Linked DNA regions of Homo sapiens: region 1 is linked to region 2. The links come from fine-mapping of genetic effects on plasma protein levels. Region 2 holds a variant in brackets. A gene starts in the other region. All regions are shown on their reverse strands.

Region 1 (8,000 bases), not on the chromosome of region 2:
AGGAGTTTGTTTTTCTCCAGACACCTTGTCCACCACCTCCAGACAGTGTTTAGTTACCAGAGACAAAGTTCCCACCAGGGGCTCATGGACCAGTCAGGGGACAGATGGGACAGACGTGCAGTAAAGCGAAGGCTCTCAAAATAATGCTGCCAGAGCACATGGGGGTACGGAAAGGGGTGTGGCTCTACCCTGTGTGGTAGGAGTGGAAGTGCCCAGAGAGTCAGGGAAACCTCACTAAGAGCTGGGCTTGAGTGGGCACCTGGGGCTGGTGATTGGAGAGTACCTAGAAGGGATGTGCATTAGTGGGACTCAGCCATGCCTGTGTGACTCACACCATTCCACCTTTGCAATGGAGATGCTGTTGAAAAATGTCCATGGGCCAGGCTTTCTGAAAACATATTCTAAAGATACTTGAAATTTGTGCAATCTTTGGGGTTGTTTAATTCGTTGTTTTTTTGTTGTTGTTGTTGTAATTGGCTTTTGTTGTTTTTATTTTTTGAAATGGAGTCTCACTCTGTCACCCAGGCTGGAGTGCAGTGGCGCGATCTCGGCTTACTGCAACTTCGGCCTCCTGGACTCAAGCAATTCTCTTGCCTCAGCCTCCCAAGTAGCTGGGACTACAGGTGCACACCACTACGCCTGGTTAATTTTTGTATTTTGTTTAGTAGAGATGGGGTTTTGCTCTGTTGGCCAGGCTGGTCTCAAACTCCTGACCTCAGGTGATCCACCCACCTCAGCCCCCCAAAGTGCTGGGATTACAGGCATAAGCCACCACGCCTGACCTGGGGTTGTTTAATTTGCAAAAGATTTGGAACTTGTCTAGTGCTGAGACCCCCTCAGGGCGTAGTGAGGTGATGTGGTGGCAGCCCCAGAGGTGATATCACTTGCTGCAGGTATACTTTTTTCTCCTTTGTATCTCTTAGACAATAGCTCCCACTGCTGTCAGGAGCAACTAAATCTTCTGTGTTACTGCTTCTAACACAGGGTTAGAAACAAGAGATAAAGTCTGTGTGAGGGTGATGTCAGCAAGCTCTTACTCAAGACCTGAGGGGCACTCCCTTTATTTAAGTAAACAAGATAAGCTTTTAGCACAGAGGCATTATGGCAATCCTGTCTTTATTTGTTCCTCTGACTCGTTCAGAGGAGGATCTGACTTGGCCTGTCAAATCTGTTTTGACTGCCAAATCCTTTGTCTTTCTCTTGCTTACTTCCTGGTTATTAACTGCACTCTGGTTAGATGAGCTTTGATGATTCCATGTTTTGCCAGGACAGTGACCATAGGTGTTTATAATGCTGACTCAGACAGGTAATACATGGTCCCAACTTCTAATCACCCCAGAAAGAACTGCCGGCCAGGCGCTGTGGCTTACGCCTATAATCCCAACACTGGGAGACCAAGGCAGGAAGATCACTTGAGCCCAGGAGCTCAAGACCAGTGTGGGCAACATAGCAAGACCTCATCTCTGTGAAAAATTAAATAAATAGGCTGGGTGCGGTGGCTCAGGTCAGTAATCCCAGCACTTTGGGAGGCCGAGGTGGGCGGATCATCTGAGGTCGGGAGTTCGAGACCAGCCTGGCCAACATGGAGAAACCCTGTCTCTACAAAAAATACAAAAAAATTAGCCGGCGTGGTGGCGCATGCCTGTAATCCCAGATACTTAGGAGGCTGAGGCAGGAGATTCGTTTGAATTCAGGAGGCAGAGGTTGTGGTGAGCCAAGATCGCACCATTGCACTCCAGCCTGGGCAAAAAGAGCGAAACTCCGTCTCAAAAAAAAAAAAAAGAAAAGAAAAATAATTAGCCTGGTGTGATGGCACACGCCTGTGGTCCCATCTACTTGAGAGGCTGAAGTAGGAGGATCACTTGAGTCTGCAGTGAGCCGTGATCACGCCACTACTGCACTCCAACCTGGGGGATAGAGTGAGTCCTTATCTCAAAAAACAGAAAACAAAAAAAAAACAAAAAAAAACTGCCTTTTGTTAAGCTTATTTTGTGTCTGTGACCATTTCCTATTAGATAGATATTTGAGGCCCAGAATATCTGCTGCCAGTTGAGGCCAGGTAAGAGTTACTGGCTGCTCTTGTTAAGCAAATATTTGAACTCAGTAGGCCTGAAGATGGGGTAACTGTTCGGATACTCTGCTTGAAATGCTGTCAGTGTGGTTAATGTTGATAATGGCCTCTGTTGGATGCCTGACACGCTGTATAAGGCACTTCGTGTAACTTAGTTTCATCCTCCCAACATTTTATATATCAGGAGACTGAGCCTTTCGTCACTGTCACTAATAAGTGGCAGTGGCTAGATTCGAACCAAGTTGGTTAAGCCTCTAAGCCCCACATCAAGCGCTCAGCCTTGTTCGCTCTGGAGTACCAGGATGCTTCCAGACTCCCTGGCCGTGCAGAGCAGCTTCCTAGCTGTTTTCCCAGTGCCAGTCCCATTCCTTGGGTCTTCCCCTTATAATACTGTTGAAATAGTAAGTTCAAAGTTTGTTTTAGTCACAACTAAGAAAGACTTTTGAATTGCACATTTTGGAGCAGGAAAGTCACATTGTTTCTGACTCAAAATGCCTGTTGCCTTTTCCAGGTCCCCATCTCAGCACCTGCCTCAGGCTGCAGTGCCACTAGTTTACACACGGGAAAACAGTTTCTAGAAACGATTTCTTTTTATTTTTATTTTGAGACGGCGGGGTCTCACTCTGTCACCCAGGCTGGAGTGCAGTGGCACAATATTGGTTCACTGCCACCTGTTCCTCTCAGGCTCAAGAGACCCTCCCACCTCAGCCTTTTGAAGTAGCTGGGACCACAGGTGTGTGCCACCAAACCCAGTTAATTTTTTGTGTTTTTGGTAAAGATGGGGTTTTACCATGTTGCCCAGACAGGTCTCAAACTCCTGAGCTCAGGCAATTCTCCTGCCTTGGCCTCCCAAAGTGCTGGAATTACAGGTATGAGTTACCATGCTCAGCCTCTAGAAATGATTTCTAATGTATGTAGCTGCAAATAGAACTGGGCCCAGTTTCTGAATGGCACTTTGAGTAACTTAGCTTCATCCTCCCAGCATTTTACATATCAGGAGACTGTGTATCAATAGCAACACACTTTTAAAAGTCAGGAACAAAGAAAGTAAGCAGCTGGTAGAAGGCTCCTTGCCCAACTACACTTCAAGTGTCCTCCTCTTATCACTTCTTGGCCTTTTGGCTAAGATCAAGAAGAAGAAGACCAGGCATAGGGGCTCACACCTGTAATCTTAGCATCTTGGGAGGCCAAGGCAGGAGGATCGCTTGAGCCCAGGAGTTCAAGACCAGCTGGAGCAACATAGCAAGACCTCATCTCTATTTTAAAAAAGAAAGCCAAAAGAAGAAGGAACAAAGGGGGAAAATGTTTTCTTCTCAGATAAAAATAAGGTTAAAGAACAAAACAAAAACCAACTTGAATAAATAAGCATTCAGGAAAACGTATCTGAGGCCAGATAGAGTGGCAGAGTAAAGACATGCATGTTTTATCCCGGTATTCAGAAGTTATATTTGGAAACTTCTTATACCCTGTTCCCACATTATCTGATAAAAAGCCAAAAATAGTTTTCGTCATTCCCTTACCAGAGGAAGGAGAAAATATCTCTGATATCTTTTATGGATTGAAATTAAAGATCTGAAGGTAAATCTTCCTGATGTTTTGCTATTTAGTATAACAAACATTGTAGAAGACGTTTAAAAACTATCACTAGGTTGTGATTAAATCCAGATTACTGTTTGAAGAGAAACAATATATTTTAAAGATAAATCATTCAAAAGTTTGTTTTGCTTTTTTTTTTTCCTGGGAACTTCATATTGTGCTTTCTTGCTAATTGCCAGAGCTGGGTTGGCCTTTTCAGTCACGCATCAGAGCATAACACTTGATAAACCGTCATCCCTCCTGGTGTATGGTCTCCAGGCCCAACAGAGCAGGCAGAATGGGAGAGAAGTAACTGCCTAAAGTTTGGAAAACTTTTTATTTTGAAGTAAGTTCAAACTTCCAAAAATGTTGAAAGAATAGTGTAGTAGAACAACTCCTGTATACCCGTACCGAGATTTACCAGGTTTAAAATTTTGGAACCTTTGCCCTGTCATTATCTGTGTGTGTGTGTACGTACGTGTGTGTTCTCACAGGCATGCACATACACATTTTTTCTTCTAGACCATTTGAGAGTAGGTCTCCTATATCTTGTTCCTCTAACATTTTTTCTTTTTTCTTCTTTTTTTTTTTTTTTTTGACGGAGTCTAACTCTGTTGTCCAGGCTGGAGTGCAGTGGCACGATCTCCGCTCACTGCAACCTCTGCCTCCCGGGTTTAAGCGATTCTCCTGCCTCAGCCTCCTGAGTAGCTGGGATTACAGGCGCGTGCCACCACGCCCAGCTAATTTTTGTATTTTTAGTAGAGACTTGGCTTCACCATGTTGGTCAGGCTGGTCTTGAACTCCTGACCTCGTGATCCACCCGCCTCGGCCTCCCAAAGTGTTGGGATTACAGGCGTGAGCCACTGCACCCGGCCCCTCTAACCTTTAATACTAATACTTCAGGGAAAATACCCAAGAGCAAGGATATTCTCATACATAATCACAGGACAGTTATCCAATTCGATTAATTTAATATAAGTACAATATTTTCATCTATTCCACAGCTCCTATTCTAAGTTTGTCAACTCTCCCAACAATGGAACTGACACAATTTTATAATAGGCACACTGAAAAATGAAACCATTTCCCACTTCTAAAACAGTGTAGAAAGCTTCTGAATTCTTAGTTTGCTAGAAAAATGAACCAGTTGCCTATCCGTAAACACCAAAAATAATTTATAATCAGCAGAAACATTAGAAACCCAACTTACCTCTGTGTTTCTGAGAAGTGGCGCTTCAGAGATGAAAGCAGCCAAGGTCATCAGTGGGATTTTGATGTGAACTTTGGTGCTGGGCTGTTGCTGCATATTTTCCAAAGTAAATAAGTCCCAATCCAAACACCAGGCAACCAGCTTGGTCAGCACAAACCCCCTCAGCTGTGCCTTTGATAACTGTAGAGTGGCTTGCAGCTCCTCATCTCCAGTTCTTAGAGCTGACACTTTGAGTATATGACGGTTACTGTGTTAGCATGCACACATAGCCTTGGTGCAGGAGCAGCCCCTCTTGAGGTCACCACATAAACAAGGCGCTCTTCAGGCCTCTGGGGACCAGGCTGCATTGAGGGTAGCTGAAAGTAGAGACCATGCATCTGCCTCCAACTGTGTCCTCTCTTCTGGGATGATCACAGCATCTGCCCTCCACCTGCTCTCCAGGACTGATGTGGCTGGCTCAGCTACTAGGCGGGTGTCCCTGTCCTTCCAAGAGCTCGTTCCTCAGTGAAAGGTGGAGGAGAGAGGACAAAATTAGTGGCTTACAGAATAAGGGGATTGTGGCATGGACCTTTCTTCAGTCAAGGGTTGCTGTGTTTGTTGCCAGTAGGTGCAGCCCAGCACTCCTGTCTGTTGTGGGACAGATAGGACTATTACTGAGCAGTGCCTCCCAAATTCAGGGCCACTTAGGCATTCGTGGGGATCTCTGAGGCTGTGATACATTTTGTGTTTATGGGTGTTTGTTTGTTTGTTTGTTTGTTTTGAGACAGAGTTTCGCGCTGCTGCCCATGCTGGAGTGCAGTGGTGCGATCTCAGCTCACTGCAACCTCTGTCTCCCAAGTTCAAGCGTTCTCCTGCCTCAGCCTCCTGAGTGGCTGAGATTACAGGCGCACACCACCATGTCCAACTAATTTTTTGTATTTTTAGTAGAGACGGGGTTTCACTATGTTGGCCAGGCTGGTGTTGAACTCCTGGAGTGAAGTGATCCTCCCGTCTCGGCCTCCCAAAGTGCTGGGATTACATGCGTGAGCCACCACGCCTGGCCCTATGTGTTTTTTGAGACAGGGTCTCACTCTGTTACCCAGGCTGGAGTGCAGTGGCGTGATCTTGGCTCACTGCAGCCTCAACCTCCCGAGCTGAAGCAATCCTCCTCACCTCAGCCCTGCAAGTAGCTGGGAATACAGGTGCACACCACCATGTCTAGCTAACTTTTGACTTTTTTGTAGAGACAGGGTCTCACTATGTTGCCTAGGCTGGTCTTGAACTCTTGGGCTCAAGTGATCCTCCTGCTTCAGCCTTGCAAAGTGCTGGGATTACAGGCATGAGTCACTGTGCCCGGCCTTATGATAATTTGTTTTTTAATTTGTGTTTTAAATTTTATGATCTAAAAAGTTTTAAGAATATTCTGGATTGTCTGGAAGATCAGCTTATCACAGAGACTGCTCCTCAAGAGCATGTTTGGGAGTGTCGGCACCCAGAGTCTATCTGAAGAGAGAATGTGACTCCTAGGAGAATCTGCGGGTGTGCAAGGGGCCCATGGGGGTGTCTGTGCATTGCTCCGTTTGAGAAATTCCAGAGTGTAAAGGTCCATTGTGTTCAGGACACAGACCGGTGGTTGTGTCTGAGTCTGATTTTGCACTCTAGCTTTTGTCAGAGCTGTCTTCTTAGAGCCTTCATCTGTCACATACAATACTGAGTCTTCAGCGTGGCACCACAGGCAGAGGCTGCTGTCTGTGCCCACACTCCTCGTGGGCCCACCTCCCTCATTCTCTGTCTTGTTCTCACACATGCAAAGCCCGGCCCCAGCACAGCCCTGGCACTTGCTATTCTTTCTGCCCAGGACACCATCCCTGCAGACCAGCAGGTGGCCGCTGCTCTCACTGTTCGCTCTTGGTTTCACCGAGGCGTCACCAGCCACCCTGGCTGAAATTGCCCCTTGGCCTCCAGCTCTCAGTATTCTGCTCTCTGAAATGAGGGTGACAGTTACACCTACTGCATGAGGTTGTTGTGAAAATTAAATGAGATACATTAATTTATCTCATTAATTAAATGAGAAAATTAAATGAGGTTAATGAATGTGTGGAAAGCACATAGAGTGGTGCCTGGCATTCAGAAAATGTTAGTCCTCATCATTTCATGGTATTACATATTTATTCACAGAAATGGTCTGGGAGGGGACACAGCATTCATTTTTCATTCTATGTACTTCTTTGTTTGACCTTTTTCTATGTGTATGTATTACTTTTGTTATTTTTAAAGCCAGTACCGGCCAGGTGTGGTGGCTCACACCTGTAATCCCAGCACTTTGAGAGGCCAAGGCGGGTGGATCACTTGAGGTCAGGAGTTCAAGACCAGCCTGACCAACATGGTAAAACCCCGTCCCTACTAAAAATACAAAAATTAGCTGGGTGTGGTGGCACACATCTGTAGTCCCAGCTACTCGGGAGGCTGAGGCAGGACAATCGCTTGAACCTGGGAGGTGAAGGTTGCAGTGAGCCGAGTTCATGCCACTGTACTCCAGCCTGGGTGACAGAGTGAGACTCTGTCTAAATAAATAAATAAATAAATAAATAAATAAATAAAGCCAACATATTTCCTGTCTATTTGGATTTCTGATCATGTAACCCACTATTGGAAAAATTTGATTTCAGTCCCTCTTGACATTGACATTTTTCAGTCATTTTCCCATTTAGTGGTAACAGCTTGTGTATGGCTTTTTTTTTTTTGAGACAGAGTCTCGCTCTGTCGCCCAGGCTGGAGTGCAGTGGCGCAATCTCAGCTCACTGCAAGCTCCGCCTCCTGGGTTCACGCCATTCTCCTGCCTCAGCCTCCCTAGTAGCTGGGACTACAGGTGCCCACCACCACGTCTGGCTAATGTTTTGTATTTTTAGTAGAGACGGGTTTCACCATGCTGGCCAGGCTGGTCTTGAACTCCTAACCTCATGATCCGCCCGCATCGGCCTCCCAAAGTGCTGGGATTACAGGCGTGAGCCACCACAGCTTGTGTATGGCTTTAACCCCACTGTAGAGCAGTACCTCCTGTCACACATACTCCATTGTTCTTTTGCAGTTTCAAGGTTTGTCTTATGGCTAGATATTTTTTCCAACTTGGAAAAAAATTTTTTTAGTTAGAAAAAAGCGGGGTCT
Region 2 (11,371 bases):
GAGGCAATAGACTGCAGCTCTTCAGTCATAAGTAGGAGCCCATTTCTCCACCCCTGGAATCTGGGGTTGGCTCTGTGACTATGTTGAAATAGTAGCAGATGTAACAAGGATAGTCTTGAAACATGCTTGTGAATTGGGGTTTGACTGCTTTTACAGCACCCGGAATCTGGGGGCTACCCTGTGAATGAGCCCAAGTTATTCCTCCATTGCTGGAGAATGAAAGGTCCCCATAGAGTGGAACCCAGGCATTCCAGCTGACAGACAGCCAGCCCCAAATTTCCAGAAGTCCTCCACAGATGCATGAGTGAGCTCCTGCCAAGATCAGCTGAAACTGATCCTGACCAAAACCACCTCCAGCTAAGCCCAGCCCACATTGCTGACCCACAGAATCATAAGCTAAATAGAAGATGACTGTCCTAAGCTACAAAGCGTGAGGAACACTCATAGGTAGCAGATGTTAACCAGTAGAACTGGTGTGTGCAATGATGGAAATGGAGCTGCTCTGGCTGAATCTGGGGTGAAGGTGTTAGAATTCTGCTCCCTAGGTCCCTGGGTTCCTGCTATCCTCTGTCACAGCTTGTCTTTACCTGTGCTTTGCCACCCAGGTCTTCCTTCAATGGCCAGAAGGAGGGAGCTACACCCTACGTTTTCCAAAGAGAACCCGCACTGTAGACTGTGAAGGATTCCACTAAACCTGGAGCACTTCTGTCCTATGGCATCCTCATGCCCTCCTCCCCCTCCCACCTCATCCAGTCCATCATCCCTCCCCACAGAAACTGTCAAATCTCAGCCTCTCACAGTCCTCTATCTAGAGTCTTGCAAATGTCACAGCCCCAGGCTTCTTTTTTCTTTTCTGTCCAGTTGCTGCTACTTTTCCACAGAGGGAAGAGATGGCCTCTATTTCTGCAGCTCTGTGGGTCCTCAGGGAAGTGGGGAGAATGCTGGTCCTATGAAATGGAGGGAGAGACTTCCTCCTCAGACTGGTGCCCTCCTAGGGTGTCTAAAATGAAACATTTCTCACCACTTTTGTAGAACAATTGTTTACTCACCAGGTACGTGAAAATTCACGTTCCTCCTCTGAACATACCCTGAACTCTATTACTCTGACCCCTTGTCTTGGGCAACAGGGGAGCATTCACACACAGCCTTCCTGCCCTGGGCATCTTTCATTAACTTGAGGAGAAACAGAATCCAGCCCAAAAGGCTTCTCTCTATCACTGGACAAGTCAAGATGGGAGATAGCAAGTCAGAAGACTCCACCAAGGAAAGTAGGCATATATTTTCTTGGGAGAATAGAAAGCAGGAAAGCTTGAAATATTAATAGGCCAGGACAGCAGTTGACAGAGGAGCTTGAAGGGGAGAGTTTTGATTTTAGAAGGAAAATATGATTTTTAAAAGTTCACTCTGCCAGCCAGGCATAGTGGCTCATGCCTGTAATCCCAGTGCTTTGGGAGGCCAAGGCGGGTCGATTGCTTGAGCCCAAGAGTTGGAGACCATATGGAATAAAATGGGCAACATGGTAAAACTCCGTCTCTACAGAAAATACGTAAAAAATTATCCAAGAACAGTGGCACATGCCTGTAGTCCCAGCTACTCTGGAGGCTGAGGTGGGAGGATTGCTTGCACCTGGGAGTTGAGGCTGTAGTGAGCTATGATCATGCCACTGCACTTCAGCCTGGGTGACAGTGAGACCCTGTCTCAAAAAAACAAAAAGTTTACTCTGCCATTACAAAAGTCTTGAAATTTTATAAGCTACCAAAAAATAAAAATAAGAAATAAGTCTCCGATAATTTCACCACCTCAAGACAACCAATAACCACTATTAACATTTTAGTGTTACTTCCTTTCAGATTTTCTCTGTGCATACTTTTACACAATTTTGATCATTCTTTATATAGAATTTTTTGGCCTAACCTTTTCATCTGTTAGAAATGCAAAATGCTTGTTCCCCAGTGCCATAAAGAAATAGCACTTGAACATAAATTTAATTCTCTCAGCAAGGCAATTTTTACTTTCTGCAGAAAGGGTGCCCATCACAGATGGAACAAAGACAAGAGCACACTTGAACAAAGGAGGTACAAAACATTTATATCTGACCCATCCAGACCCTACTGCTGTGTCCTGATTCCATTGGCTGGAACTGGACCTGACAGTCTAGGCAGCACCCAGTTGGCTAAAGGTTTAAAACTTTTTCTAAAGAGGTAATGGCAGAGGAGAAGAAAGGAAAAGAGGAAGTTGCTTATGAAAAGACTCAGAAAAGTAATAACATTCCCAAATAAGGAAGGGGCATAGGCTGCAAGCTGTGACATGCCTGTGCACAGGTCTAGCACAGATATCTTGGTTAAAGTACAGGGACATAGAATGTATTTAATTTTCTTACATTTAATAACTACATAGGATAGGGCTTAACAAAGAGTTATTAGCACAAAGCAAGGAAGTTTGAAGGAAGTTAGTTTTTAAAAGAAACTATTATCTCTAACACTTATGATTTATTCTTTAACAAGAAGGGAAATTTTGAAGAGGAACTTTTTGCTTTCTACATCACCCAATGTTGTAGGCATTTTCCATGTTGTAGAAAACTCTTAAAACATTTTAGGCCAGGCACGGTGGCTCACACCTGTAATCCCAGCACTTTGGGAGGCCGTGGCAGGCAGATCACGAGGTCAGGAGTTTGAGACCAGGCTGACCAACATGGTGAAACCCCATCCTACTAAAAATACAAAAATTAGCCAGGTGTGATGGCGTGCGCCTGTAATCCCAGCTACTCAGGAGGCTGAGGCAGGAGAATCACTTGAACCTGGGGGGCGGAGGTTGCAGTGAGCCAAGATCGCGCCACTGCACTCCAGCCTGGGTGACAGAGCGAGACTCTGTCTCAAAAAAAAAAAAAAAAAAAAAAATCTTAAATGCTATATTATACTCCTAACTTAAGGAGGTATCACATGTACTTTAATTTTACTGTTATAAATAGCTTGCATACACACAGGGAAGTGAGGTAAGGAGACCACACTCATTTTACTCCATTTGGATGTACAATTGATCCAGCATCATTTACTAAAAATACCAAACCTTAAGTGTTCATCTCAATGAATCTTTATAGTATGAAATATTTCTAGCACCCCAGAAAACTCCTTTGGGTTCCTCTCAGCCCACACCCCACCCCTACCAAAGTAACCACTGTCCTGACATCTGTCATGATGGAATACTTTTGCCTGGTCCTGAACTTTGTATAAATAGAATCAAATAGTAGGCATTCTTGGTTTCTGGCTTGTTTTTTCAACATAATGTCTGTGAGAAACATCCATGTTGTCACATTAGTTTCTTTTTTTATTGCTGAGAAGTATTCCATTGTGTGACTAAAGCACAATTGATTTATCCATTCTCCTGTAGATGGATGTGTGGATTGATTCCATCCGGGGGCTACTGCAAACCAAGCTGCTATGAACATTCTTGCATATATTGTTTGGTGGTTACCTGCATTCATTTCTCTTGGATACGTACCTGGTTTTGTCATAGGGTAGGCATATGTCTAGCTTTAATAGATTCTACCAGTTTTTCAATAAACTCTCCTATCATCAGTATATCAAAGTTCCAGTTGCTCTGCATCCTTGCCAATACTTTTTAAGTTTTGCCATTCTGCATATGTGTAGTAAAACATAATAATGGAGGCCAGGCACAGTGGCTCACGCCTGTAATCCTAGCACTTTGGGAGGCCAAGGCAGGTGGATCACCTGAGGTCAGGAGTTCGAGACCAGCCTGGCCAACACAGCGAAACCCCGTCTCTACTAAAAATACAAAAATCAGCCGGGTGTGGTGGCATGGGCCTGTAGTCCCAGCTACTCAGGAGACTGAGGCAGGAGAATCGTTTGAACCTGGGGGCAGAGGTTGCAGTGAACTGAGATCGCACCACTGCACTTCAGCCTGGGGGAAAGAGCAAGACTCCATCTCAAAAAATAAATAAATAAATAAAAATAATAATAATGGCTTTAATTTTGCATTTCCCCAATATCAAATGATGTAGACCACTTTTTAGATTTGTGTTGGACCACTTAGATATCCTCTTTACAGTATGTCTTCTCCTTGTAGATTTGTTGTCTTTTTCTAAAATATTCTGAATACTAGTCTTTTTTTGGATAAATGTATTGTAAACATGTTCTCCCATTCCATGGTTTGTCCTTTAATTCTTTTAATCTTGTATTTTGATGAACAGAAGTACAGAAGTTCTTAATCTTAAATAAGTCCTAATTTGTCAGTTTTTTAAATTTCATAGTTAGTGATTTCTGTGTTCTGATTAAGAAATTTTTGCCTACAAGGTTGTGACAATATTCTCCTATATGTTTTTCTAAAAGTGTATTGTTTTACCTTTCAAATCTAGGTCTATGATCCATTTGGAATTAATGTTGGTATAGGATGTGAGAGAAAAGTTCATTTTTTCCATATAGGCATGCAATCGATCCAGTATTATTTGCTAAAATGACCATCCTTTGTCCCTGAATTCCAGTGGTATCTTTATTATACATCAGGTGATTATATATGTGTTGGCCTCCTCCTGAATCCTCTATTCTTTTCCATTAGTCTATTTGTCTAATCTGGAGCCATTGTCATACTGTCTTAATAATGTGTGAAAGGAGGTTGGGTGCGGTGGCTCACGCCTGTAATCCCAGCATTTTGGGAGGCCGAGGCGGGTGGATCACGAGGTCAGGAGATCGAGATCATTCTGGCCAACATGGTGAAACCCCATCCCTACTAAAGTACAAAAAATTAGCTGGGCATGGTGGCGGGCGCCTGTAGTCCCAGCTACTCGGAGGCTGAGGCAGGGGAATCGCTTGAACCCGGAAGGCGGAAGTTGCAGTGAGCTGAGATCGCGCCACTGCACTCCAGCCTGGGCGACAGAACGAGATTCTGTCTCAAAAAATAAAAATAAAAAAATAAATAATAATAATAATAATAATAATAATAATGTGTGAAAGGAAACTATCTTAAACCCCCAGAATCACTAAGCTAAAGGGAAAAGTGAAGCAGAGAACTGCTTAGGGCAAACCTGCCTCCCATTCTATTCAATGCCACCCCTCTGCTCACTGAGATAAATGCATATCCTTTTGCCTCTTTTGGAGAGGCTCATCAGAACCTCAAAAGAATGTAACCATTTGTCTCTTATCTACCTATGACCTGGAAGCCCCCTCCTGGCTTTGAGACTTGTCCCGCCTCTGCGGACGGAACCAGTGTTCATCTTACGTATGTTGATTGATGTCTCAGGTCTCCCTAAAATGTATAAAACCAAACTGTGCTCTGACCGCCTTGGACATATATCAGGACCTCCTGAGGTTGTGTTGGGTGTGCGTCCTCAACCTTGGCAAAATAAGCTTTCTAAATTAACCGAAACCTGTCTCAAATTTTGGGGGTTCACAAATGGGAACTTTTTTTGAGACAGGGTCTCACTGTCCCCCAGGCAGGAGTGCAGGGACACAATCTGCAGCCTCAACAATGATCTCCAACAATCCTCCCACCTCAGCCTCACAGGTAACTGAGACTACAGGTATGCGCAACCACACACAGCCAACTTGTTGTTGTTGTAGTTGTAGAGATGTGGTTTTGCCATGTTGACCAGGCTGGACTTGAACTCTTGGGCTCAAGTGATCCACCCACCTCAGCTTCCTAAAGTGCTGGCATTACAGGCATGAGCCTCCACACCTGGCCAATAATGGGAACTTTATACTAAATCTTGCTATCTGGTATTATAAGTGTTCCAACTTTATTTTCTTTCAGAGTTTGTCTTGACTATTCTAGGTCTTTTCCATTTTATGTAAATTTTAAAATCAACTTTCCAATTCTCACAAAATGTCCTGATGGGATTTTTATTGGGATTACATTGAATCTCCAGATCACTTTGGGGAGAGTTGACATCTTGACTCTGTTGAGTCTTTCGAGTAATGCACGTAGCATCTCTCTTCATTTATTTAGGCTGTCTTTAATTTTAATGCCTTGTTCATATTGATACAGACCTCTGGCACCTCTTTCATTAGATTTATTCTTAAGCATTTGATGTTTATGTTATTGTAAATGATATTTTTTAATTGATTTAAATAGTATAGGAATAAATACCTCAGTAGCCATGAAATGAGAACCCTGGATTTTCACAAGAGTATACATGACCTTCAAACAGAATGGAGAGTGGACTGTTGAATTCAGAACAGCACATGTTGTTCAGAATTGCAGTTTATCTTGATAAGAAAATTAAA[CA/A]AAGACATTCACATGATTACACCTATTTCTAGAATTTCTCCTTTTTTTCACAGTCACCAGGACCAGGGGCTACAGGGTCCCACGGTGCCTGGAACATAGGCATTGCTTCCCAGTTGCACTGCCTTACGGTCAGCAATTCTCTTCTCCAAAACTGAGCCACTGGCAGACACACATATTGATATTTTGTACCATACACATTGATATTTTAAGCTTTTTAAGAGCTTCTTAAAAGTAGGATCATCCCTGACAGTTTGTAAATGAGGAACTTCCAAGATCCAGGCTGCTAAATCAAATATTATCCTCAGACCAGCTTCCTGTCAGCAAAGACAGCCAACCAAGGTGGGAAACCCACACAGCCTGTCAAAACTTACAAAGAAATGCTGCCTTTCCCAGCATGAAACTGGTCAGATGTCAAAGGCATGAGGATATTAGTACGAGTGTAAAAACTGACTCTATATTCAAAAGAATTCATATCAACCTTCCTTAATTTCTTCAACCTACCACGTTTGTGGGATGGGTCCCAGGAAACAAGGTAGGACCAAGTCGGTGTTTTTTCATTCACCCTTATCTCCATGGCCCAGCAATGCCTGGCATACAACAGAGGCTCAGTCCGGTTGGTTGAATTGAATGGGGGATAAACATAGCCTCTGCCTTCAAAGAGTTCAGAATAGGGGCAGAAATAAAAACTGTAACACGAGTAAGTAATGCCTGTATTGTCATCTTCTGTCTGCAGTGGAGAAGATCCAGCCCTCAGAAGCATAAAAGCTGTCCGCAGAACCAGCCCTGCAGGTACTTTAGGAGAAAAGCCAGTCAACTCCTAGTAATAACAGGTAACATTGGGAGGGTTCTGTGTGCCAGGCACTGTGCTATGTGCTTTCTGTGTATTTACTCATTTAATTCTTCAACAGCCCATAAGCATTGGGTCTTTTTATTATCTAATAATCCCGTTTTTTATAAATGGGGCACAGAGAGGATAAGGAACTTGTTCAAGGTAACACAGCTAGCAAAGAGAGGAGCCAGGATTCAAACCCAGGCCAAGCCCTTGACCACCCTGGGGTGCTACCTCTCCCACATGACAAACTACACAGAATTCTCAAGACTCCCTCACATGTGCTGGGCACAGTGGCTCATGCCTATAATCCCAGCACTTGGGAGGACATGCTGGAGGATTGCTTGAAGCCAAGAGTTCAAGGTGAGCCTGGGCAACATAGGGAGATCCATCTCTACAAAAATAAAAAAATAAGAAGTTAGCCAGGCATAGTGGTATGCACCTATAGTTCCAGCTACTCAGGGGACTGAGTGGGGAGGATCACTTGAGCCTGGGAGAGGCTGCAGTGAGCTCTGATTGCGCCACTGTACTCCAGCCTGGGCAACAGATCAAGACCCTGTCTCAAAAATAAAATAAAAAAGATTCCCTCACATAATCAGCATCAAGGGCTCACCATTAGAGTCACTTTTAAGGGTCATCTGGAGACAGATCTTTCACTGGGTTAAGGCATTTCTTACCTGGAAGGGATAACAAACTTGCTAGCTAACCACATTAGCCAGGCTAAGGGTGTCAATTGTACATGGCTATGGAGGCCCATTAAGAACCTTGTGTATCAGATTTAAACCATGACTGAGGCAGTGATGCCCAGCAAAGAGGATAAGGAGGACCTTAAAGCACTGGCACCCAAGGCTGGAGAAGCCTGAGGCTGCAAAGAATTGAAGGTTTTCTCCAAGCATGACCCCTGTGTTGGCCTTGGGGGCCCTGGAGCAGTCTGAAACCATGTGGACCATGGCTGGGAAGCACGTTAGGAAACAGATCAAGTAAACTACCTGACAAAGCATTTGGGCAAGAGTGCCCTGGGTGCCAGCCAGATGCAGAGAGGAGTTGAACCATGCACCCTGGTCATAGGACAGATCTTCAGAAGGAATGGAATTTAAATGGAGCTCTGCTTTTCAGCAGTCAGTGCAAGAAATCAGGGACTTGCATAAACTTGCCAAGCCGCAAAGCAAATCCCCTTCCACTGAAGAGGTGCTGGGCTTGTCGTAGGATGTGACCCACTGGATGCTGGCAGGCGGTTCTTCTGAGAGACTGAGAGATGCTGGAAAACTCAGCATCTCAGTGAATGACTGGAAGAACAAGGGAGTAAAAGAACATGAAGGTGGGCCACCCTATTCACACACACACACCTATGTGTGTATAGATATTTGTATATATGTGTTTTTATTTTTAAATGATTCTGTCAGGGTCTCAGATAGAGGTGAAATTCTAACCTACTCAGAGTGATTTCTTTTAGGTTCCCAGACCTGGGATCCACATTTTTTGCTCTACTGAGGTAGGAAGGTGTCACTAGATCCATTAAGAACTGCAAATTCAACATCTGTGAGAATGGTTGAAGCTCAAAAGACTGGCCAGCTTCTCAAATACCCAGTGACTGAAATACGTAACTGGCCAGCTTCTCAAATAGCCAAGGCAGTGCCAAGGTTACTACTCAGGAGAATGTCTTCCATGTGCCTGGGGCAGACAGGAAGTGTTCTGACCCTCTGCCCACAGCTTTGTTCCTGTACCCACCAACTCAAGTGATTAATGGGGTGGCAGGTGGTGCAGCAGCCAAGTGACCTTCACACACTGTAACTCCTTTTGTTTCCTATGGGACACTTTCCAGATGGGGTTTTCAGCACTCAGGAAACCTCTTTGTGGCTGGCAGTAATGCAAGAAGTGCAGTGTTTATCCATTTCCTCTCCTGAAGCCCTGCCCTTTGGAGCCTCGTCCTTGTATTGCTGCCCAGGTATTTCACAAATTCCAGATCATTCCCACACTGTTCCTGCACACACAGCGCTATGCCCTGTCCCCTGCTGTCCTCTTGCATGTGACAAGCCACAGTGACTTTATTTCCTATGTGTCTAACCACAAGGCTCTTACAGAAATTTTCCCTGGCTGCCAAGACTCATTCAACATCATAGGTGGCCCAGACTAGAGGGTAGGTAACATTATCATCTCAGAATGTTCTTATGGTGTGTTGGGACCGGAGGTCTGTACCTGGAGGAAAAAGAGAAATCCTGAAACATGTTTTAGCCAAGTAGTAAGCACATAACATCTCTTCCAAGCAAATATAAAACTATAGTAGACCTCAATCTGTCTTCTTTATTAGCTAGGATTAAATTTGACTAAGTGACTTAACAGGGATTAAAGCACACAAGGTCCCAGCCTGGGCAACAGAGTGAAACCCCATGCCTACAAAAAATACAAAAATTAGCCAGGTGTGGTGGCACACACCTGTAGTCCCAGATGCTCTGGAGGCTGAGGTGGGAGGATCACTTGAGCCCAGGAGATTGAGGCTGCAGTGAGCCATGATCATGCCAGTGTACTCCAGCCTGGGTGACAGAGCAAGTGAGACCTCGTCTAAAAAATTTTTTTTTAATTTTTAATTACACACACACACACACATACACAAGGTTCTGTTTTCTCAAGTAAAAGAGGTAGGGAAGTAGGCAGACAGAGCTGGTATTAGTGTCAGCATTAAGCTGTTTCCAGCTTTTGCCTCCATCATCCCTGCAGAATGACCCTGATCCTTAGGTCTAAAATGGATGCCAGAGCTCCAGCCATCATACCCATATTCCAGGCAGCAGCAGACTTTCCAGAAACTTCACACAATACTTTCATATATATGTCATTGAATAGAACTTGGTCACTGGACCACATCCAACTATACTGGAAATCAGGAAATGTCTTTATGCTGGGAATCCAGAACATGGAACCATTGATATGGTTTGGCTGTGTCCCCACCAAAATCTTATCTTGAATTGTAGTTCCCATAATCCCCACATGTCATGGAAGGGACCTGGTGGAAGGTAATTGAATCAGGGGGCAGTTATCCTCATGCTGTTCTCATGATAGTGAGTTCTCATGAGATCTGATGGTTTTATAAGGGGCTTTCCCCCGACCTTCACTCTGCACTTCTCAGTCTGCCGCCATGTGAAGAAGAACATGTTTGCTTCCCCCTTCCACCATGATTGTAAGTTTCCTGAGAACTCCCCAGCCATGCTGAACTGTGAGTCAATTAAACCTCTTTCCTTTATAAATTACCCAGTCTCAGGTATGTCTTTATTAGCAGCATGAGAATAGACTAAAACAGCCATCTACAAGATAACTGGACTGATCTCATGAGAGGTTACTGTTCTAGATTAAAAGAAACTAGCTGGGTGCGGTGGCTCAATGCCTGTAATCCCAGCACTTTGGCAGGCCAAGGTGGGCGGATCACCTGAGGTCAGGAGTTTGAGACCAGCTGGCCAGCATGGTGAAACCCTGTCTCTACTAAAAATACAAAAAAAATTAGCTGGGTGTGGTGGCAGCCGCCTGTAATCCCAGCTACTCGGGAAGCTGAGGCAGGAGAATCGCTTGAACCCAGGAGGTGGAGGTTGCAGTGAGCAGAGATTGCGCATTGCACTCCAGCCTGGGCAACAGAGTGAGACTCCCTCTCAAAAAAAAAAAAAAAAAATAGGCCGGGCACAGTGGCTCATGCCTGTAATCCCAGCACTCTGGGAGGCCAAGGCTGGTGGATCATGAGGTCAGGAGATCAAGACCATCCTGGCTAACACAGTGAAACCCCATCTCTACTAAAAAATACAAAAAATTAGCCAGGCGTAGTGGCAGGCGCCTGTAGTCCCAGCTACTCGGGAGGCTGAGGCAGAAGAGTGGCGTGAACGCAGGAGGCGGAGCTTGCAGTGAGCCGAGATCGCTCCACTGCACTCCAGCCTGGGCAACAGAGCGAGACTCCGTCTCAAAAAATAAAAATAAATAAAATAAAATAAAAGAAATAAAAGAAACTAAAGAGGCATATGGATGAGCGTTGATTGGATATGGAAGATATTTTGGATACAACAGGAGAAATTTGAACACGAACTCAGTGTTAGATGATATTAGCAAATCATGGTTAATTCTCTTATGTGTGATTATAGACTTATGGTTACATAGGAGCATGTACTTAGATAATGCAGGTTACAAAGTACTTAGGAGTGAATCAAAATACACAATAAAAATAGGTTAAAAGATTGGCAGAGCCAACAGGGAAAAGATAGTAAGAATTACTGAGTGTAGGTGGAAGGAGTATGGATATCTATTATACTATTCTTTCTGATTTTCTGTATA

Which allele goes with the higher level. Positions count from the first base shown, and alleles are read on the strand shown. Strength reflects both the effect of a copy and how common the allele is.
With allele CA in place of A in region 2, the plasma level of the protein whose gene starts at base 4,889 in region 1 is higher (moderate association).

Evidence for each region. PIP is the posterior inclusion probability: the model's chance that the variant is causal. The UK Biobank Pharma Proteomics Project read protein levels with antibody pairs (Olink). The fine-mapping took linkage between variants from a reference panel, not from the people measured, so its PIPs are less certain.
Region 1: it holds the start of SERPIND1, and the variant in region 2 is fine-mapped to the plasma level of the SERPIND1 protein (UK Biobank, PIP above 0.99).

What each region holds. Positions count from the first base shown.
Region 1 is chr22:20,771,002-20,779,001 of GRCh38, reverse strand. SERPIND1 (serpin family D member 1) reads right to left here and starts at 4,889. Exons shown (of 5, transcript NM_000185.4): 1 at 4,857-4,889. All of the region lies in intron 19 of PI4KA (phosphatidylinositol 4-kinase alpha), which reads left to right. RefSeq lists an enhancer at 907-1,201.
Region 2 is chr16:72,039,957-72,051,327 of GRCh38, reverse strand. No RefSeq gene overlaps it. Among named protein-coding and RNA genes, the nearest start is that of HP, 8.9 kb to the left of the region's middle. The variant CA/A (reference allele first, on the strand shown) is at 6,237.